Homo sapiens: one gene and its partners. The protein of the gene in region 4 purifies or fractionates together with the protein of the main gene of each other region. This does not show direct contact. Each region holds a gene or a part of one and is shown on either strand. Other genes may lie near its edges.

Region 1 (3,761 bases), on a different chromosome or scaffold from region 4:
AAAAAAAAAAGATCTCAATTCTAGTCTCAGCCTAATAGGAAACCAGATCTAGAGCCTTGAATAAATTACGCAATTGTACTTATGTCTGAGTTTCATCATGCAAAAGTGAAGGTAATTAACACCCACCTTGCATGCCTCTGAAGATAAAACAGGAGAACAAATAAGTACAAGATGTTACTATACTTTAAAAACAATTTTGCAAGAGGACTATACTTTAACCTAACAGCTGCAATGAAAATGTTATGTAGCTTCTTCTCCAAGGTTATTTAGTCAGGACTCATCAGTTTGGTTATACTAAAGTGCTGTGTCGTTAAGGTCCAACAGAGAAATGCTAGTTCCTGGCAAATGGAAGACTTAAGTATAGATCCGAACCAGGGGTCTAGCAGATAGGGCTGGGGTCCCCTAAGGATCTCTTCCTCTGTGAGATAAAGTCTTGATTCTATCATAAAATACGATTTCTAAAAAAACTCTATATAACACATTTAACAGGCATAAAACACAAATGTATTATGAAATACTACTTACGAGAACTTCATAGTCAGGGATGGTATGGGTTCCAAGCCCTGTCCTATCAAAAGTTACTCTATAAGTAGCATTAAGAGTATCCACAGCATCTATTTGTCCAGTGAACAAACCATCATGAACACCACGTAATCGTGCTGAGAAAAGAACAAAGGCATTATGATGTGTGGGAGATACAAAGAATAGTCAAATATAAAACTGTTCCAAGCATGTAATTTAAATCATAGTACAGTATTTTGTCTATTAGAGTTTCAAAACAAGCACACACTTTATTTTTGGCTTAGAGAAACAACAAAGAATTTTTGAAACAAAAACAAAAACTATAAATGATGATCCCTAATTTCATATTTGAATAAAATTATATTACTCCCAAATTAAGAGAAAAATATTTTAAATCATTTAACTGCAAAAAAAACAACAAAAGAACTTTGGTCATTATACTCATGAGTGAAGCACCAGGAGTAGTTCAATTTAAAAAAAAAGACAAAGATGTTGTGTAGAAAATAATTAAAGAAGTTAATACTGCAGGCCTGATGCTGCTATACTTAGGAAAACCTCCTTGCAAGGTTGGCCTTTGTCTGGTATCTGGGAACTTGGATTTCGGAAGTGTTCCCACTGTTCCCTAATTAATAATGGTGGTTTTACTGTGTCTAGATTGTGCAAACGATGTGGTTAATGCTGGACACCTGCTTTCCCTCTGGAAGACTGGAATTTTAGTATGTACTAGGCAAAAGATGCCTACATACTCAGCCCCCAGTAGAACTCTGGTCACTGAGTCTCTAATGAGCTTCCCTGGTAGACAACACTTATAAGCATTGTGACAACTTGTTTCTGGGAGAATTAAAAGTCTTGCATGACTCTATTGGGAGAGGACTTTTGAAAACTTGCACGTGGTTTCCTCTGGACTTTGCCCCAAGCACCTTATTCTTTTGCCAATTTTGTTTTGTGTCCTTCACTGTAACAAATCTTACCCATGAGTACATGTGCTGAGTATTCTGAGTCTTTCTAGTGAATCACCAAAACTAGTAGTCTTGGAACTGATGACACAGATGAACTGTGTCACTATTATTTAAGTCCAGCCTAAAATAACATCAGAGAAATCCAAACAAACATCCAGCATGAGTAAAAAATTTAAGAACAACAGCATTGATGGCTGTAAACTGGGCAAAGTAATACATTTTATACTAACCAAAAAGTATAATACACAACATTTTAATAGAACACAGAAATACACAATGCAAGACTGTTTAAAATAAAAGGATCAATTGATAAAAACACAACTGTAGAGGACTAAAATCTCTCTCAGTTTCTGACAGATCCTTTAAGGGAAAAGTAAACATGGATACAGAAGATGTAAATAATGAAGCTGAGTAAACAAATATAAGCATAGAAAAGGACTACTAGTTATGGTGGCATGAAGAGGCTGGTAATTCCTCTCCACAAAAAACAAGTACAAACCTGAATGAGATTGTGAAAAACAACCATTCCAGGGTACTGGAAATGGATCAAATGTAGAAAACAAGAAACGTTTATTGTTGAAGAAGTGCTAGAGCTTCAGGTTAGGGCAGGGGGACTCAGTGGCCTCTTTGCACGAGGTTATTCACACACCCACTACTACCACCAACGTGGTCGATGAGAATGGTTTTATTAGTTCAGGGTTGGTCACGAAAACCAGCCAGAATTTTGACTGGTCATGAAAGACAGCCAGAAATTTAACAGGGAGATCATGGAAACTAGAGAGCCATAAAAGGGCGGAAATAAGCTCTCTACCATCCCTGGCTAACTGGGTTACTATGCAAATGGAGGGGGAAGATCCAATAGTCTGGCAAAAAGTAAAAGCTAAGGATGACTTGAAAACTAGCAGCAACTTTGTATTTACATTCCCCAACTCACATATAAATCAATGTGAGGCTTTTCCCGATCAAGATGTTTGAGCATAACCTCTGTTCAAATCATTAGGTGACCACTAAATTATTATTATTATTTTGAGATGGGAGTCTCGCTCCGTTGCCCAGGATGGAATGCAGTGGCACGATCTCGCTCACTGCAACCTCCACCTCCCGGGTTCAAGTGATTCTCCTGCCTCAGCCTCCTGAGTAGCTGGGATTACAAGTGCCCGCCACCACACCCGGCTAATTTTTTTTTGTATTTTTAGTAGAGACAGGGTGTCACATGCTGGCCAGGCTGGTCACAAACTCCTGACATCAGGTGATCCGCCCGCCTCAGACTCCCAAAGTGTTGGGATTACAGGCGTGAGCCACCGCACCCAGCCCTGACCACTAAATTATATGCAGACACAGGGGTAACTCTTTGGAAATCAAGTTTAATAATAATAATAAATATAAGAATAAAAAATGAAGCAGAGACATCAGTATTTGCATAGCCAAGTTATTAAAGCAAATCCAACAACTCTCCAAAAAATTAGAATACATAGTTGCTACAATATATTATCTGAAATATCAAGTTTTCCACCAAAAATTACTAGACATGTAAAGAAGTAGGAAAGCATGGCTCTTAAGAAAAGTACAGTAAGAAATTGAGAGAGATATTTAGCAAAGACTTAAAAAAGCAGCTGTTATAAATATGTTCAAAGAATTAAAGTAGGCTGGGCGTGGTGGCTCACTTTGGGAGGCCCAAGAGGGTGGATCGCTGGAGCTCAGGAGTTCAAGACCAGTCTGTGCAACATGGTGAAACCCCATCTCTACAAAAACATACAAAAAAATTAGCCAGGCATGGTGGCATGTGCCTGTAGTCCCTGGAGGCTGAGGTGGGAGGATTGCTTGAGCCCAAGAGGTAGAGAGGTAGAGACTGCAGTGAGCCAGGATAGTACCACTGCACTCCAGCCTGGAAGACAGAGCAAGACTCTGTCTCAAAAAAAAAAAAAAAAAAAAAAAAAAGGTTTGTGTATGTATGTACTTTTTTCCTATTCTCTTCATTTCTGTTTTTTGAAAAATTTATTTGATAAATAAAATCTTTTTTATTTCTTTTCCATTTACTCCTTTAGATAACCTACAGAAAATCCCAGATAACCTGGAATTATCGTTCATTTTACAAAGATTACTTTTAGGATAGTTCAGATTCTTATAATTTCTTAACAAATCAATGATTTTAATATCTTTTTTAACACTCTCATTTCTCCAGGGGTAAACAACTGTGGCTTAAGTATGACGTCTCAAACAACTTTCTATATACTGTAGCTAAAGTATCATGTCTAGACATTTTTCCAAACTTCTCTACTA
Region 2 (3,761 bases), on a different chromosome or scaffold from region 4:
TGAGGCTGGGGGAAAGGCCAGTGAGGTATCCAGAGAACCAAGAGAGTGGTGGTCCTTTGGCAAAGTAAAGAAACTGCTTCAAGGAGGGCATGATCAGCTGTGTCCAGAACTCCTGATGGGTTGGATAAAATGAGGACTGAGAATGGAACATTCCATCTGCCAAGGCAGAGGTCTTGTGATTGTGACAGCAAGTGGAGTAGTGGGGACAAATGTCTAACAGAGTTCCTAAGAGAATGGAAGGAGATGGAGAGACAGGGAGACTATTAGCAACTCTTTCAAGTTTACCTGTAAAGAAAAAGAAATGGAGAAGAGACTGGAAGAAAACACAGGGACAAGAGGGGATTCTTAAAGACGGAAGCTGTAATCGCGGTTTCGTGCTAGTAGGAATGGTCCCCAATGCTGCTGTCGCGACAGTCCCACTTGCTGCACTGCAGAAGCGGACCCCTCTACTGCAGGCACTAGGAGAGTTAAGAAAGGTTCCACGGAGGAGGCAGAGCTATTCTGACTTCTTCTCCAGGCTACATTACCTGGCTGTTCCCCCAATCACTTGCAAATACTGACTTAGCACCCACTATCTGCCAGTACTAGGTAAACAAGACTGTCACGATCCTTACCCATAGAGAGCTTCACTTTAATACAAGCCACACACAAGCAGGAAGGCAACGAAACTGTAGAACATTGATGGCTGTGTTTATGGAAGTGAGTGTGGTACGGAAGCATCTCATATGGGTTTGATTAATCAGGAAAGGCTTCTTAGAGAAAGGACTAAGCAGACAGAACCTGAAGAATACAAGAATTAAGGACAGAAGAGGAAAAGCAAGCAGAAAAGAGTCAAAACATAGAGAACACTGTAAATTAATGTGGACTTATCTGGGGACAGTGGGGAGCCACTGAAGGTATCTGAAAGCAGGAGACTGCCATCTGGGAGATTCGGCTGCAGGGTGGGTGAAGGGATGGGGGAAGGTCATCACTGGAGGCCGAGGAGCAAGACTGGCAGAGCAGAATGAGAATGGAGATGCTGGCTGCTGTGCTAAGAAGGAAAGGGGAAGAGGCAGTGGAGGCAGAAAAGAGCAGCCAGACCCTCACGATCTGAGAGGCCTGCTACTGGACATGGGGACTGCGTGGATACAGTGGGGAAGAGGTCAATGCCAAGTATTACTCATACAAGCTCACTTATTCAGTCCTAGCCTCCTTGCTGTTTCCCAGGAATATCGGGAATTACTGTTTCCCATCTGCTACTCCATTTACTAGCAATGAGGTTTCTGTTTCCAAACAGAAACAGCCTTCTCTCCCCCTAGACTAATTTCATAAATTCCATGAGCTTTCCACAAAGTGGGAAACCAGTCATTCGACAGTAGTAACATATTTCAAATTAGGAGCTACCTCTCTTTTCAAAGATATTTTCAATAGAGACCCCGAATACTGCCAAAAGAGTTGAAATGAGACAACAGAAAACGCCAACTCTAAGGCTCAGAAATTTCCTAACAGACTTTATTTTCAGTCAAAATCTGTGGCTTCTTTTGATGGGGAAAAAATGTCTTTCCCCATGACTGGTAAACAATCCCAGATATAAAACTGTCCAAAGTAACATAAACCGAAGTCTGCACAGCTCCATTAACAAGCACGGCCCATGCCAGAGTGGATCCACGCACTTTATGTGGTCTCTGGAGTTTTGAACATAAAGGGAGGTTTGGGAGCACAAAGAAGAGTCTGAACTGTTTGCTCATGGTATAGACCATTTGCTGAGGACAACGCAGAACATTCAGCGGAAGCCTACGACACCACTTTGACCAGCTGTGCCAAATACTGGGGGGTGAAGAGCAAGTGTCATTTTTCTTTTTTTTTTTTTTTTGAGACGGAGTCTCGCTCTGTCGCCCAGGCTGGAGTGCAGTGGCACGATCTCGGCTCACTGCAAGCTCCGCCTCCTGGGTTCACACCATTTTCCTGCCTCAGCCTCCCGGACTACAGGCGCCCACCACCACGCCTGGCTAATTTTTTTGTATTTTTAGTAGAGACGGGGTTTCACCATGTTAGCCAGGATAGTCTCGATCTCCTGACCTTGTGATCCACCCGCCTCGGCCTCCCAAAGTGCTGGGATTACAGGCGTGAGCCACCGCGCCAGGCCAGCAAGTGTCATTTTTCATGGGACCTGATGTTGTGTCAGGAGAAAAATAATTGTCTCGAATTACTGAAGGGGAGTAGGTGACTGCTGAATCTGTTTTCTAATTCTACCGCCAAAGGTAGTGAGGTTCCTTAGTAATTTTTGTTGTTCAAAAAAAACTCTCGGCACACCTGCAATGAGGAGGCAGAACTTAGTCTTAAGACTCTGGGAAATGAACTTGACTATTCTTGTTTCACAGAAAATTATATCTTTTATGAATGTTATCATCACAAACAGTGCTTAAAAATGGTTATGAAAGGCATCCAAAATATTCTGGTTATTTTCCTCTACAAATATTTCTTAAAAGAGTCACAAACCTGTCTTCTGAAATTTGCCTACTTGGCTCACTATAAACAACTCAAGTAAGCTGCAATCTGCAAAAATTTGCCCATGGCAAATTAAGACACACCTCCTTCCCTTCTGTATCAATAGTCTCAATATGGTGGCCCAACTGCAATGAGCAGAGGGCAAGCTGTCTTTCTGATTAACTTTCAATCCATGCCTCTTGGTTGGATTCTTACGTCGTGGCAGGCCTAGAATATTATCACCAGAGGGACTATAAAGGAGAAAATTTTAAGGGGACAAACACGAAGAGACAAAATAAGAATTTAAATTCCAACAAAAAACAGAAACACACTTCATTCTGTATACTTTTTGTTCTGTTATACAAAAATCAAAGTCTCTGACATTGTAAGTAAATGCTTAATTTGAAGTATAAAACGTACATGTATTAAAGTGTACAAATAGTTGAGTATATAGCAAGATAAAATTTTCACTAAATATATATACCCATGTGACCATTCCACAGATGAATAATAGAAAACAGCGAGCACCCCAGGTGCCTCCTCATGTCCTTGCTATCACTATTTTTTGATGGTTTTGAACTTCATGCTATTTTTAAATGCAATCATATGTTTCATTTTATTATCATTATTTTTATTTTTTTAGAGACAGTCTCGCCCTGTCACCCAGGCTGGAGTACAGTGGGGGGATCACAGCTCAATGTAGCCTCTAACTCCTGGGCACCAGTGATCCTCCCACCTCAGCCTGTCAAGTAGCTAGAACTACAGGCACATGCCATCATCTTAGTGAATTTTCTTATTTTCTTTTGTAGAAACAGGGTCTCACTATGTTGCCCGGGCTGGCCTCAAACTCCTGGCCTCCAGAGATCCTTCTGGCTCAGCCTCCCAAAGTGCTGGGATTACAGGTGTGAGCCACCACACCTGGTCTCATTTTATTTTAACAAAGGAACAAGTTCATTTTTAAGAAGAAAAGTCTTTCACAATTGTTTGAAGGGAAGGTAGCATATAGAAGGCTCAGCTTACCACATTAAATTTAGGCAGCTTTTTTGCTGTTTAACCTCGTAAAGATCCTAAATGATTCTCAGAAGGACAATATAAAGAGATACAAAGTTAAATTCACTGGGTACATACACACCCAATTCAGACCAAGCCAATATCACAAGCTTACCTTCTGCAGAATCTCTCATATTTGCAGAGGTGAAATCTGGCTCACTTGTCTTCAGTTGTATGTCTTGGATTTTGTTTCCTTTGTTTTTATTTTCCTGGGATTTTTTCTTCCCTGAAACACAATTTTTTTT
Region 3 (3,761 bases), on a different chromosome or scaffold from region 4:
TTATGTCAATAGAGACCCTCTCCCCAAGCTGAAACTAGGTGTTTTGTTGTAATAATTAAAGGCGAAGTCTCGCTTGCTTTAATGGAGCCATCACACTAATTGAGGGCTACACATCCAAAGGAAAACAATAATGAATGTAAATTTATACCAAAATAAAGTACAGTGAATCAAAGGACTTCAGTTGCGCTTTGGGCCTCTTTCGGTATTTAGATCTCGGTGAGAAAACATTAAATTAACAGAGCTTAATTTGTAGCCTTTTGTCAAATTAACAAGTGTTGACAAGAGTTACCGGGGGGAGAGTCCCCAAGAAGAATTGTGGGTAACCAATAGACAATCACACCTCATTACAATAATTAAAAAATACAGCAACATGCAAAATAGCATCCTCATGAAAGACACACAACTTTTTCTGACAGAGGGTTGTCTGAGTTGGCTATTCCTTTTTATCTAGCCTTCAAATATCTCCCCATCAGCCGAATGGGGCAAATGATCACTGAGAACTATTCGAGGGTTGGCCCCATCTATTTAGAAGAAATGGGTCACAAGCTCATGTTCATGTCTACCGTCCCAATAAAAATAAGAAGAGACAGAGAAACAGAAACTATACCCAGGGTTGGTATTTGGTACAGCTACTACATAATGCAATCTGTTTTTTATTAAAAAAAAAAAAAACAGCATAGAATCTATCTAACTAGAGAAATACGGGTAGAATTGTGGGGTAAGCCACTCCAAAATTTTATCTTCCTTAAGGCTTTGAAAGGCCATCTTCCCTAAGACTCAAACCTGAGTTTTACCAGGATTTATTCCTTTTAGCATTCAATGTATTGTCCTGTGTTGTTCAGAGTACAGATCACTGGTAAGGAGAAATACATCCACAGAAACAATCACGAAACACATATTACACACATGCTCATGCAAAAATATACATACACACAACCTGCCACAGTATGCTAATGCATCAAAGGCCTTTCTACTCTGAATTTAAAACACAGTTTTTTTAAGTTGCAAAAGTTAGTCAAATAATCTGGGCACTGCCAGGAGCTAGGATTGATGCTTACGAAGGCCCCACATGCTGCAGTGACGGTTCCAAATGCCCCATTCCCACCGTTCACAGTTAGGTAAAACATTCAACGTGCAAAGACTCTCAGAGAGATGCTGATTCAGTCCCATGGAGCTTCTCAACAGACAAAACTTTCCACTGTTGTTGTCAACCTTGGGAGTAATGTTCAGGATGAGGTGGGGGGTCCTGGAATCATACAAGAACATGCCCTAATCCCAACCCTGGATTTCAAAACAAGGCCGTTCTTGTTCCTGCTTCTGTGCCCCAAAATATGTAACACCTAAAATGGAGGACTCGACAGCCTCAACCCAATGACATGACTGCAGTTTGGGCAGCCAACAGCAGAAGGGTCATGACCAGCTTCATTGGGTGGAAGTTCCAGTAGTCTTCTGCAATTCCCAAAGGAACTGCAGGGCACCTCTGTCCACAGAGCCTCTGGGGACCATGGTCGCGGAATGCTAAGTGCCAGTAACATAAGCCACCTGAATGGCTGTGGATTTGCCTGTATTCCCACAGGACACCTCAGCAACACCTTTTCTGTGCCCTCCCGCAGCCCCCTCCCCAACCCTGGCTTCTAACACACACACATACACACACACACACACACACACACACACACACACACAGACACACACACAGAATAAATAATAAACATGCCCATGTAAGAAACAAAAAGGAAATTAAAAAATGGAACTCCTTACTGTGGTACTAACCATCCTAGCGGATGGGGGATTTGTCCTACGGTGCCAGGCGATAGTGGGTAATACGGGGATATATCTGGAGGGTGCGGAGGCCGTGGGATTCCTGAGGGAAGAAGCAGCATTTTAGGTACAAAGGAGGGAGAGAAGGAAAGAGCAATCCATTAGGGGATGGGAACAGGGAAAGGAGGAAGAGACGCATCTCTTCTGGAATCCTAGCACAAGGTTCATTCATGATTATAAATCCTGAGTTGTTGGTAGGTTTCATCTCATTTTCCCTCAGCCTCAGTTTGAAAAATTAGTTTATCTCCTTCTAAATGGACTGGTATACTGAGTAGACTCAAGATATGCCATCTTGGGTATTTGTGCCTCATGTGACTGGTGTGATTGTTTCAAGTTTAAAAGAAACAACATCAAAAAGGCTCAGCACCTGGTGGAGAATGAAGCAATGGTAATCCCTGTTGCTCTTACAACTCTGGCCCTTCACCCTGCGGAGTTTCATGCCTTACCTGCACAAGAGCTACTCCTCTGATTTCTAACACACTTTTTGAGCTGTGGCATTTGAAAAGTTACTACCCTTGCCTTTTTTCAAAAATGGTGACTCCTCTAAAATGTCTCTGCCTCTATTTGGATGAGCTGGAGAAACTGATCAAATGCCATCTGGCATCTTATCTAAGGCAGAGTCAGAGCTGAACAGACAAGGAGGTGTTGGAGGCTTGTGTACTCCATTCTGGAACTTCATCCGCTAGAGGACAGAGTCGTCTGTGGGGATTAAGCCCACCTGCTGAATGGGCACCGCGTGCGTCGCAGGGGCTAAGAGCTTCACAAGGCACACATGAGCGGATTCTGCAAGTACGTGCCACCGCACATCTGCCAGTTCCACAGGAGCACATCCTGTAGTCCACTCTGACAGAGAGGAATTGATGTATGCCATTGAAGTGGGAGGCAAAAGGCACAATACCACAGAATTAAAACAGAGTAATGGAGGGAACGGGCTGCATGTTCGTGGACGAAAACGACTTCATTTTTTAAAAAATTCATTCAGGAAGCTTTTAATCTGTAAATTAAGTCTCCCTGGGTGACATTTTCATGCAGACATTGCTTTCTCTCTATTACAAAAACCAAACAGATTAGCTGGGCTTGGACCCTACATCGAGCCATTTGCACACTTGAAAGAATGTTCGCAGAGGAAAAGTAAACAGTCCACAGACGTTAATCATATGTTTTACGATAACCATTTAAAAGCTATTCCCTGTACTACCATTATTTAAATGAGACGTTGACGCTGCCATTCACTGGTGGAGCCTGGGGCCGGCTGGAGGAGGCCACCAGGCATCCAAGCGCCAGGCTCAGTCCTGCACCAGCACAAAGGGGCTCAGAGACCAGTAAAACCCAGCTCATGTGTGGCTTCGTTCAGGGGCAGTGAAGGCCGCCTAACCAGGCAGCCTACCTACCCCAACACTACCAATCCCCTCTAACAAAGTGATGTGCAATCACCACTTTAAACCCATCCTTCCAATTACTGAGCTAGGAAGGGGAAATCCTACCAACACACTGGGTAGCCTGAAAGACACACACTAACCTTACCTGTTCTCCCAAGACCACCCCACCAGGCTGCTGGGGCTGCCTGCCTGATTTAGATCTTGTTGGAGGAGAGCTACAAGTAACCCCACCTTCCCTCCCTCTCCCCTTTGGGAAAAAAGCAGTCAATGAACAACTGGGATAAAAAGGGGATGCTGGGCTGGGTGTGGTGGCTCATGCCTGTAATCCCAGCACTTTGGGAGGCCGAGGTGGTCAGGAGTTCGAGACCAGCCTGGCCAGCATGGTGAAAACCTGTCTCTCCTAAAAATACAAAAATTAGCCGGGTATGGTGGCACATGCCTGTAGTCCCAGCTACTTGGGAGGCTCAGGCAGGAGAATTGTTTAAAACTGGGAGGCAGAGGTTGCAGGGAGCCAAAATTGTGCCACGGCACTCCAGCCTGGATGACAGAGCAAGACTCTGT
Region 4 (3,761 bases):
CATCTTGTTTCAAATGATAAGTTTAAGAGCTGAACCTATTTGGAAGTTAGAAAAGTCCCATGTACTACATATAGAAAACTTGCTAGACATATTTACCTATTTTTAATAAGATTTCTGGATAGCTAAACACGAAGAGGTTTCGCCCAGGGAGGGCACCAAAGCGCTGCGCCCTCTTGGCCCATACTTTGCCCTACACGCTTCATCTGTATCCTTTACAATACCCTTTATAATAAACCAGTAAGTGTAAAAAAAATCCATATGCTTCAGCAGCTAAACTGATTCTGGTCGAGCTCAACAACACAGGTGAGTAAGAGAGGGAGAGGATTTGAGGACCAGTTAACAGATTGATTAAAGCAATCTTTTCAGCTCTACGCCCGCTAGCCCCAAGTTAATGGGACCCACAGGAACTCTCTGGAATAGGGTGGAACTCTGAGGGTGTTTGAGCATCTAAATGGGCCTGACAGGAACTCTCTACTTTAAGGACGACCTAGAAAGAAAGGCACGAATTCAATCCACTGAATGTGAATCTCAGAACTGAACCAGAAGACCAAATTCCAGAGGTGGGAAGGTGGGAAACTAATTTTGTCAATGCTTATCCAAGAGCCACCCTTGTTTTATCAGAGCTTTATTTGCCTCTTTTAGCTAGGTGATAGAGACAATAGCAGTCAGTTTGTTAGGATAAATCTTATAACCTTTCTTATAACCTTTTCATAGAAATACAATTATAGTTTATACTCTCATCTATGTCTTATTCATAAAAGTTTAAAACATCTCTGAACAAAGGTACAATTAAATTGATGCTAAATAAATGAATAACGTTAAAATACAACACCATGTTTCAAATTATATACAAACCTGAATACTCCATGACCTCCTCAGGGGATTTGCCCTCTACCTCTCGAGCTATGTTATCAATGTCATCTCTTCCATATTTCTCATTAGCTTTAATAAACTGGTTAAAATCTCGTTTAGTCCAGTTTGTGAAACCCTGTGAACAAAAAGTTAAGCATTATCAATAGAGGTTAAATTAATAAATCCATTTATTGCCCTATTTACTTCTATACAATGATACATTAAAAAACACTTTAAAAGACTTAAAATGTTTCTCCTTATAAAATTGCACATATTTTATGTTGGAATCAAAAGTTGAGTGAGAGTTGTTATAGAAATAACTGCTTTTCTATTACAAAGAGAATGTTGATACATAGTTCGAAGATCTGTAGTTTTTAATTTCATATTTTATAGATGCCTACATTAAAATACAAATGCATGAAAATAAAAATGCTAATATAAATGCTGAAGTCGTGATATTCTAGTACTTCAATGATTTTTTTCACAGATCTGTTCCTACATAAATTAAAAGAGAGAAATGTGGATGCACTAAATCAAAAGAACACTGAGGAATAACCAAAAGATAATGCAAAAAAAAATTGTAGCTCTTTACATCATTCTGAACTAGTGTGAATAAATAATTTCTGTTCTAAATTATGTTCATAAATAGAACTTCTACAAGCAGAACGTTATTGGAGCCACTCAATTTCTTTACTAAAACATAAAACACTTTAGCCAGTGTTTTAAATTCCCTTGGCATTATTAGCATGTCTGTGAAGTCACAAGACCAAGAATTTGTCTTCCACTCCTCGAGCCCCAACTCACATAAATGTGATACTCCAGACACTGCAAAACTCTATCCCTGGCTTTTAGTTGATAAAGATTTCAGATGACCCCACATTTTGTTCCTACGTACTGCCATGGTTTTTTGAAAAAGATTAATTATTTAAGGCAGCAGAGAAGGACAAAAATGAATTCATATACTAGGAGAAGCAGAAAACTGATTATATTTCTAATTACAAACTAAAATATTATCTCAGTTGAGACTGTATATTCATGTTATACCGTACATTCACAATATACTCCAAGTCATGTAGCATTCTAAAGCCATAACTTTACTTTTACATTCAGGAAATACATTTTGAAAATAGAACATGAATATTTAAATGTTTTATTTTATTCTGTGGTAAGTTCTAATATTCAGCCATCTGCCATTATATTTTCAAACTAAACTTTATTACTTCCAGGCATTTGGCTCAAAAACTTATGAATGTAATTTGTGAAAATCCATACAATAAAATTACGTTATAGCAAAAAAAACCTATATAATAAATAATATACAAATATAAAAACTATCTTTCAATAATTAACGTGGAGAATTACCTACTACTATGCATCGCACATTGTTCAAAATTTGTTGAATAAATAAATCTTGCTGGCAACCCTCTATACTAAAGTAATGTCCTACGGTACACATTTTGTTTATTTTGCAAGCCTTCTATGCTGAAATTTTTATCTTCTATAGTTTATTTTAGAAGTAGAACACTCGTAAAACTCATGATAGCAATAATGACTTAAAAGCATTAATATTTTGTTCAAATGGAAACCTTCCTAATTTAATAATTGTTATACAATGATCACCTTAAATAATAATAATAATAATAAAAGCTTCAGAAATCTCTCATCATTGTATGAAAATTATAAAAAAAGATAAAAAGAATTTTGAAAATTATGAAATTATTCCATTAATAAAAAATTAGTAGAATATAACTTCAGGAGACAATTCACATCTATAAACAAAAGAAATTTAAATTTTCAAGAATATGTTAATAACAGGCTTGGCACGGTGACTCACACCTGTAGTATCAGTTGCACTTTGGGAGGCCGAGGTGGGTGGATCACTTGAGGTCAGGAGTTTGAGACCAGCCTGGCCAACATGGCAAAACCCCATCTCTACTAAAAACACAAAAATTAGCCAGGCACGGTGGTGGGTGCCTGTAATCCCAGCTACTCGGGAGGCTTGGGCAGGAGAATCACTTGAACCTGGGAGGTGGAGGATACAGTGAGCTCAGATCGCACCACTGCACTCCGGCCTGGGTGACAGAGCGAGACTGTCTCAAAAAACAAAAAAGAATATGTTAATAACTACTGTCTATCAGAATTCAAATGTGGATTCACTGACCTTATTATAATTGGCAAAATGTATGTCAAATTGCTAATACTTGACACTTATATTTTGCATATACATACTATCCACTATTTCCAAAAGGGCATATTCTATAAGATCAATTTTTAAAAATAAGGAGATTTGGTCTAAACATGTTTACAAAATAGCCCTGAGTTTTGTTGGTGTGTCACACTAGGATACTAGGCCCATACAATAAAAAGTGTGATCTATATTTTCTTTTTTTCTATTGATTGACTGTAAGTATTACAGCCATTGAAAATATTTTACTTGTGTGAGAAGTTTTTCCTTTTCTTCAGTCTCTTCTGGTGTAAGAGGTTCAGCTCCATCAATCTTTTTTTGCTCTTCTCTTTGAGCCAGAGCTGGATTTGGGATATCAGGATTCCTTGGAACCTATAAATCAAGAGATAAACTAAGAGTAAACTGATGAGAAAAATTAATTACTAAGGCTGTATATACACATATCAATCTTTAGAGTTATTTCAAGAGTAAACAATATAAAATCATAGCCAGAATGACACACGGTCCTCTCCACATTTCTGCTACCATGATCCTATTGAAGTAAAAACCATTCTTGTGCCACATGATATTCCATAGTTAAAACTCACTGGCAAATGCCACATTAGATTTCAGATATGATTATACCCTGGAACAAAGTCTACCCTTATACTATTGTAATATACAGAACAAACAAAAAGTTTAGTGGTAAAAAACAAAAAAGAATCCATATTCCCCTGGCAACACA
Region 5 (3,761 bases), on a different chromosome or scaffold from region 4:
TGCTGGGTTCAAAACAAAAGAAATTAACAGCAAGCGCGGGGTGGATGTTCAAAAAAACCACAAACCTGATTTCATGGAAACACACCTTTCCCGAGAGCAGTGATTCTCAGCTCGGGAGATGCAGGGAGAGCCCCCAATTAGCCAACGGTTTCATTTTCTCCTCGTGGGTTAAAATGATTAGTTTATGTTTAATGTTGTGTCGAGGCATTATTTACCTGCACTGAGTGGGGAGTGTGTGACCTGAATGTGCAGCTGCTGCCTGAGTACCCACGGGAGGAGGAAGGCGCCGCTCTTACCTGCATGAGCTCAACGTTTCCAAAGAACCGGCTCACGGGCATTGGCTGATTGCTGTCGTCATCTAGAAAGACGCTGTTGTCCATCTGAAGTGGTGGCTTCTGCACATCCTCTGTCTGTAGCCCTGGCTCATTCTGCTTCTGCACAGTGGAGCTGCTGTTGGATTCTTCTGCTCCGGACCCGGCACTGTGTTTTGGCACGGACAGGCCATCTCTAGTCTTTGCTAAGCGAGAGTCACTCACAACTCTGCAGCCACCGAGAGGAAGACTTGCAGCCCCCTGCTGCACAGAAACGCCAGCCTCGCTGCCTGGAAGCAAGGCACTGCCTTCAGCAAACTCATTTTCACAAGGGGTCTCAGGTGTCACTTTTGGCAAAGAAGCGCTGTCATTCTTAGGGACAAGCTTCTGTAATTCTGACTTCACAAGATGTCCTTTGTCACATTTGAACTTCTTGGACGTTCGCGTGTCTGTGGCTTTGTGGGATGAGGAAGTCTGTCAAGAAAAAAAATGTAAGGGGAACCAGACATATCTAGCAAATAAAACAGGCCTCAATCCAGAGGCTAGTATTTCTTCTCACATCGGAAATGATAAAGATGCTGTGACCACAACTTTCACAGATCGTCATTTCACTGTTTTGCCACCAAGGGACAAAATACAAGCGAGACTGAATCTAGACACACCCCACACCACTCCTACACTTTCAGTTTTCCCTAGTGGCGTTACAGCTCCACACCACTCCTACACTTTCAGTTTCCCCTAGTGGCGTTACAGCTCCTCAGGTGAATTCTGAAGCATATATTTATATATTATACAATTACAGTAAAAGAATCCAGCTTTCATTCATTTCTGCTAGGGCATAAGCTCTGTGAAGGCAGGGGTCTTTGCTTTATTCACCAATTAGTGCCTGGCACACAGTAGGTGCTCAAGAAATATTTGTGAAATTGACTTCGACAAAATTTTACCAAGCACCTCATCATGAGCAAAGCTCTGTGCTACACGCTGGCATATGGCCAAGTCCTAACCCCTCAACTGTAGGCTCCGTGAAGCGGCTCTACTTCACCGGTAAGTTCAGGAACTCGCTCCTCGGAATCGATGGCTGGGCTAGGGTGAACGGCAGACGGCATGAGATTCCTTTCCCCACCCACTCTGCCTTTCTCTTCAAGCCTCTGGCGGTGAGGCTGCACGGCAATGGGCCAGCATGACTCCATAGCACGCTAAGAGCAGAGCGATGAGCACAAGTGGCCTCAGAGCCTGGTTTAGACACACACACGGGTGGGCAGGTGCTAGGATCAGAGCCCGGGTCTAGACACACACACGGGTGGGAGGGTGCTAGGATCAGGGCCCGGGTCTAGACACACACACGGGTGGGCGGGTGCTAGGATCAGAGCCCGGGTCTAGACACACACACGGGTGGGCGGGTGCTAGGATCAGGGCCCGGGTCTAGACACACACACGGGTGGGCGGGTGCTAGGATCAGGGCCCGGGTCTAGACACACACACGGGTGGGCGGGTGCTAGGATCAGGGCCCGGGTCTAGACACACACACGGGTGGGCGGGTGCTAGGATCAGGGCCCGGGTCTAGACACACACACGGGTGGGCGGGTGCTAGGATCAGGGCCCGGGTCTAGACACACACACGGGTGGGCGGGTGCTAGGATCAGGGCCCGGGTCTAGACACACACACGGGTGGGCGGGTGCTAGGATCAGGGCCCGGGTCTAGACACACACACGGGTGGGCGGGTGCTAGGATCAGGGCCCGGGTCTAGACACACACACGGGTGGGCGGGTGCTAGGATCAGGGCCCGGGTCTAGACACACACACGGGTGGGCGGGTGCTAGGATCAGGGCCCGGGTCTAGACACACACACGGGTGGGCGGGTGCTAGGATCAGGGCCCGGGTCTAGACACACACACGGGTGGGAGGGTGCTAGGATCAGGGCCCGGGTCTAGACACACACACGGGTGGGAGGGTGCTAGGATCAGGGCCCGGGTCTAGACACACACACGGGTGGGCGGGTGCTAGGATCAGGGCCCGGGTCTAGACACACACACGGGTGGGCGGGTGCTAGGATCAGAGCCCGGGTCTAGACACACACACGGGTGGGCGGGTGCTAGGAGAGCCAGCCCTGGCCTGCAGAGTGTGTCTTTCTCTGAAGGCAATTACAGTGCTGTCACCTTTTCATCTGCAATAGTCCCCCTCTGGCAGATAAGTAACAGTCGATATTTTTCTAAAGCAACACATCTTGGAGTGGCAATTTTGTATAAAAATGGACCCTCGAGTCAGGATCTTGGCGTTCTCCACGGTAACAGGGCTCACCAGACATGCTGTCTTGGCAGACGTGGAACCAGCAACTTCCTGGGCAGAGGCCAACCTGGCTGCCGAACAACTTCGTGCTTTCAAGCGCGCTGAAGACCGCACTGCACCTGTGAGCTAGAGAGATTGAGAGCCACTCAGAGAGTGCTCTCAGGAAGGCAGCATGAACATGTAGACGAGAATTTCCCACCTAAAGAACACCCGAAGACCGCCCCTCCCACTCCCAGGATTTTATCATCTTTGTGGAGACAGCTGTGGCCCGAATGTGTAAATCCAAATGAAACTGTGCCTGGATTTAGGATACAGGATCTACTATTTCCACGATTTTGGAGGCTTGGGACGATCTGTCCCCCTTATCTTGTATATTTCTAGTAGCCACCATTTGTCCTTTAGTGGAAATTAAGTCAACTTCAAAGTGTTTAGAATAAGCAGCACATGCCCTTCCTTAGAAGGCTCTCCAACTTTCATACGTTGTCAAAGTTTTTAAAAAAAGGTAACATGAGGAAACCAAAGTTTCTCTTCCTCAAATTAGACTCCTATTCTATTAGCTGAATGCAGCTAGCGACTGTCTCACAAATTTTAATATTAACAAACTGGTCCACCTCTCTTTTATCCTGAATGCAAAGCAAACTCCTCTAATAACAAGAAAGAAATTAATTAAAGACATAACATTTAAAATAACTATTTAGGAATAATTTTCGGCATTCAGAAAGTTGCAAAAAATAGTACAAAGAAACTGGTGTGATAGCTCACACCTGTAATCCCAGCTACTTGGGAAGCTGAGGTAGGAGGATCGCTCGAGCCCAGGAGTTCAAGACCAGCCTGGGCAATACAGCGAAAGCCCATCTTTAAAAAATTTTTTTAAAAATTAGCCAGGTGTGGTGGTGTGCACCTGTAGTCCCAGCTATGTGGGAGGCTGAGGTGAGAGGATCACTTGATCCCAGGAGTCTGAGGCTGTAGTGAGCTATGACTGCACCACTGCACTCCACCTGGGTGACAGAGTGAGACAGTGTCTCTGAAAAAATAATAATAATAAAATAGTACAGGGAGTTGCCATGTAGCCTTCACTCAGCTTCCACTAATGTTAAACAACTACAGGACATTGTCAACATTAAGAAATTAGTGACATTACGGTACTCTTCACTAAACTATAG
Region 6 (3,761 bases), on a different chromosome or scaffold from region 4:
ATTTACCCAGAAAGTGAGTTAATCTGCTATTAGAACCATGGATAAAGATATTCTGTAACTATGCAGTTGTACGTATACACATAGATAACCCATAAGCCATCATTTCCAGATTCTTATTAGAAACAAGCTGAAGACGTGTACACATCTGTCAGATACACACGTGGGTGCACACAGACATCTATGTAACAGATGAACAGCAGTCCACTTTCCAACTGCAGGGACCTCTTTAAGGATGCCGTTGCTGGATGCTCATCAAATATAAATCCTTTTATCTCTGACAGTATCTAAACAAAGTCTCTTTGTAAAGAGACTTCAAACTTCTGGCTTAGAAGCTGAGGAGGGAAGAGAGAATGAGAGAGAAGAAAACAGTAGGAGAGAAAAGAAAAGAACGTGTGGGCGTGGATGTGAAAGTGAGGAACTAAGAAACCAGGCAGTTTGAAACGACCCCCTCAGAGCCGGGGCATGGGGAGGACTCCTACTCACATCCATTGGACGTTGTTTTTAGACTTCTTCTTAATGAGGTGGATGCCTTCCAGAACGTTGGTGATATCATAAATCCTTCTCTTTTGCACTTTTAGCACTTCTGCTGCCTTGTTCAAATCCAATACCCCATCGGGTGACTGGCTCAGGAGCTGAATGAACTTCTTGGTGAGCAGACCAAGAGACGTATCATACCGCGTTTTTTCTGAGGGAGATTTTGGAGCTTAAAGAAAAACAAAAACCGAGCGGGTGGGGGATAGGGGGAAAGGTAAAGAAATGAAGGGTGTCTTTGCAGTCAAGCAAGCTCTCTTTCCCACTGCAGCCAAAGTATTAGTATCTGAAGCAAGGCTGTCGTTGCTGTTGGTGTTGGCAAGTCATAGAAAGCTATGAAAGTTTTTTATTAGAGCAGGAAGGGAAGGTAAAAATTCCAGGGTTTGATTAAAGCATTTCACCTTGAATTTCTCAAGAGTTTCTACCTTGACTTACACCATTCCCTGGCTCCAATGAAGAATTTACATATAGCGGGCGCTAAAAAATATCTGTCAAATGAATGAAAGAGTGCTGTGGCCTCAGGGGACCAGCACACACGAGGCCTACGGTGATGGAGCCAGGCTATGAGTCTCACTAGCACTGCAGGACAAGGTCTTAAACAGACCCATCTCAAATGGCCTTTCAGGCTCTGGTATCTGTGTGTGCGTGTATCACCTGTTCACCAATTTTCCAAACAATGCTTCATTTTGATAAATAATTACCTGGAAAAGTCTTCTGCCAAATCTCCCCATCTCTCTTAAAGGAAATTTCCTTACTTAATATTGTACTTGTTCCCCCATAGGTGCACAGGTCAAGGTTTTAATTTAGTGTCACACAATTTGTGGATTGCCTAATGCATGAACTAAAGGAAGAGAGAGAACAAAGTCTAATTTAGCCCTTATGTTAAATGCAAACACATACATAATGGGACTAGTTGGCTATTTCTAACCTACGTTTCTCTCTCTCCCACAAGAAACGGTAATAGTATTTGATAGAAAGAGAAACAGCCTGCAATTTATCGGGCTCAATCAATTCTTACGCTATCATATGCTGAGCTGGAGATTGAGGTCGGCACAGACACTGGTGACTCTGGCATAGTTCGTGGACATCCAGTTTGCCTCAGACTCTGAAGCAATGTCCATTAAGGGAAGTTAAAATTAAATTTGATATAGAATGGTGCCAAAAGTTCGTATTCCGAGTTGAAAAATGAAACTACATACAGTTAAAAGAAGTCTTCCCTTATGGTACCAGTGTGACTCTGTAGCCTTTCACTGGTTGTCTGCTGACATTGTATTTATTTTTTTGGATAAGCACAGAAAGAAATGAAAAAGAACAAAACATGCCAGAATTATTCACACCTTGGCATCCTTCCGGCCATAAGCTTTGAAACTTGGAAATGCCATACCAAGGAGAATAAGGAAAGAGATGAAAAGATCCTTACTTTTTGGACTATCTGGACTTCGTAGTGCAGCTCTTCCTTTGCCCTTGGGGGTTTTTAAACCATCTGAGAGGTACTGATGACCGCTTTCTCCTAGCTCCAGCCTTCGCTTTGCCTGTAATAAGAAAGTGCGATCTCTCGTCACCGGTCATATGGACAAGAACAAGAAGGGAGGCAGTTTGTGGGCTGGCCTGCCAAATGCTGCAGGCTCATGCCAGCTCTCACCCCTCTGCTCCACCCCACTCAGCATCTTGTCATTCCCTAGAGCCAGGATTCTAGCGTTGTAGGCTGGGTTGTCATGCACACTCTCTTCACCTGCCGTGATCATCCGTCCACACCCAGATGGACAAACACAGCGATCCTTCAGCATTAGGTTCAGGAGTCACTTTGTTCATTGATTCAACACATCATGTGCCTGGCATGGGGTTGGATGCTAAGAATATCACAGGCGCCGTGGGGCTTAAATTCCCTTTCCACAGTGAGTCTTTCCTGCCCATCTCCCATTCTCCGACCTGGGTTGGACCCCCTTCCTTGTGCTCCCCAAACACTCTGTGTTTATTTGTATCATGACACTTATTCGGTATTACTGTAAGACTTATCTGTTTCTCATTTCCTTTAAGGCAGGGACTGTTTCCCATTTATCTTTGTATACCCAGTGCTTGGCACAGAGCCTGGGTTTCTGTAGATTTTCAATCACTCTCTCTATATACTGTATATTCAATGAGAGAAAGGGTGATTGGATCGTAACACAACTAGTCACAGACTACAAACGGCCCTTCATCGGGAAAACAAATACTGCAAACATGCAATCTTGGGCTTCAACCACTATTACTTTCTCCATTTTCTTATCAAGCCTAGCAAATGAGAAGCCCTTATCTAAGTTTTTAATTTAACTCCAATTAAATTTTAAAATATCCACATAGCGTCTTCTAGGTACCTAGGCATTGGGCTTAGTAAGCAAGATAGATAAGGGGCTTCGAGTCCAAGAGAAAAGATAGATGGTTAAGCAGTTGTTAAGTACTAATTGTATGGGTATGACAGGTGTTTTAGAAAATAAATGGCACCAACTGGACACTCAGCACAAAAATATGTATTTAGGCTCATTTTCAGGCAGATTCTTCTAATGAGGAGATTTGCAGTTTCTTTTTTTTAAGACAGAGTCTTGCTCTGTCGCCCAGGCTGGAGTGGAGTGGCGCGATCTTGGCTCACTGCAACCTCTGCCTCTGAGTTCAAGTGATTCTCCTGCCTCAGCCCTCCCCAAGTAGCTGGGACTGCAGGTGCACGCCACCACTCCCAGCTAATTTTTGTATTTTTAGTAGAGACGGGGTTTCGCCATGTTGGCCAGGCTGGTCTCGAAGTCCTGATCTTTGGTGATCTGCCCACCTTGGCCTCCCAAAGTGATGGGATTACAGGCGTGAGCCACTGTACCCAGCCGAGAGTTGCAATTTCAAAACAACTCCCCGTGATGTGAAAACGTAAGTAATAACTTATCAGCGGAAGCTAGATATTCAGCCCCTCTATGGAAAGTTACCAGCTAACCCTGCACCGTCTACTACGATAGCCACTGGTTACTAGCTCATCCAAACTGACATGTGCTATAATTGTAAAATACACACTGAATTTCGAAGACTTAGTACAAAACAGGGTAAAATATCTCAACAATTTTAGTAGTGATCACATGTTAAATGAAATAAATAAAATACAACTGACCCTTGAACAACATGGGTTTGGACTGTCCGTTTCCACTGATTTTATTTTTTTAGAGACAGGGTCTTGCTCTGCCGCCCAGGCTGGAGTGCAGTGGTGTGATCTC

Evidence for each region.
Region 1: the proteins of SMARCA1 (region 4) and LIN9 purify together in Homo sapiens (affinity purification with mass spectrometry, with the first as the bait; one large-scale study listed by BioGRID). This does not show direct contact.
Region 2: the proteins of SMARCA1 (region 4) and PRDM2 purify together in Homo sapiens (affinity purification with mass spectrometry; one large-scale study listed by BioGRID and IntAct). This does not show direct contact.
Region 3: the proteins of SMARCA1 (region 4) and TCF7L2 purify together in Homo sapiens (pull-down; one large-scale study listed by IntAct). This does not show direct contact.
Region 5: the proteins of SMARCA1 (region 4) and C1orf174 purify together in Homo sapiens (co-immunoprecipitation; one large-scale study listed by IntAct). This does not show direct contact.
Region 6: the proteins of SMARCA1 (region 4) and E2F3 purify together in Homo sapiens (pull-down; one large-scale study listed by IntAct). This does not show direct contact.

What each region holds. Positions count from the first base shown.
Region 1 is NC_000001.11:226,267,432-226,271,192, forward strand, and holds part of LIN9 (protein lin-9 homolog), read right to left. Parts: intron 660-3,761; coding exon 526-659; intron 1-525. UniProt on the Homo sapiens protein: Acts as a tumor suppressor. Inhibits DNA synthesis. Its ability to inhibit oncogenic transformation is mediated through its association with RB1. Plays a role in the expression of genes required for the G1/S transition.
Region 2 is NC_000001.11:13,773,059-13,776,819, reverse strand, and holds part of PRDM2 (PR domain zinc finger protein 2), read right to left. Parts: intron 3,743-3,761; coding exon 3,632-3,742; intron 1-3,631. UniProt on the Homo sapiens protein: S-adenosyl-L-methionine-dependent histone methyltransferase that specifically methylates 'Lys-9' of histone H3. May function as a DNA-binding transcription factor.
Region 3 is NC_000010.11:113,142,026-113,145,786, reverse strand, and holds part of TCF7L2 (transcription factor 7-like 2), read right to left. Parts: intron 1,865-3,761; coding exon 1,762-1,864; intron 1-1,761. UniProt on the Homo sapiens protein: Participates in the Wnt signaling pathway and modulates MYC expression by binding to its promoter in a sequence-specific manner. Acts as a repressor in the absence of CTNNB1, and as activator in its presence.
Region 4 is NC_000023.11:129,467,918-129,471,678, forward strand, and holds part of SMARCA1 (SWI/SNF-related matrix-associated actin-dependent regulator of chromatin subfamily A member 1), read right to left. Parts: intron 3,410-3,761; coding exon 3,287-3,409; intron 989-3,286; coding exon 856-988; intron 1-855.
Region 5 is NC_000001.11:3,890,273-3,894,033, forward strand, and holds part of C1orf174 (UPF0688 protein C1orf174), read right to left. Parts: intron 2,725-3,761; coding exon 2,611-2,724; exon of another isoform or gene 2,477-2,610; coding exon of another isoform or gene 2,469-2,476; intron 1,508-2,468; coding exon of another isoform or gene 1,354-1,507; intron 786-1,353; coding exon 297-785; intron 1-296.
Region 6 is NC_000006.12:20,478,148-20,481,908, reverse strand, and holds part of E2F3 (transcription factor E2F3), read right to left. Parts: intron 2,064-3,761; coding exon 1,952-2,063; intron 704-1,951; coding exon 484-703; intron 1-483.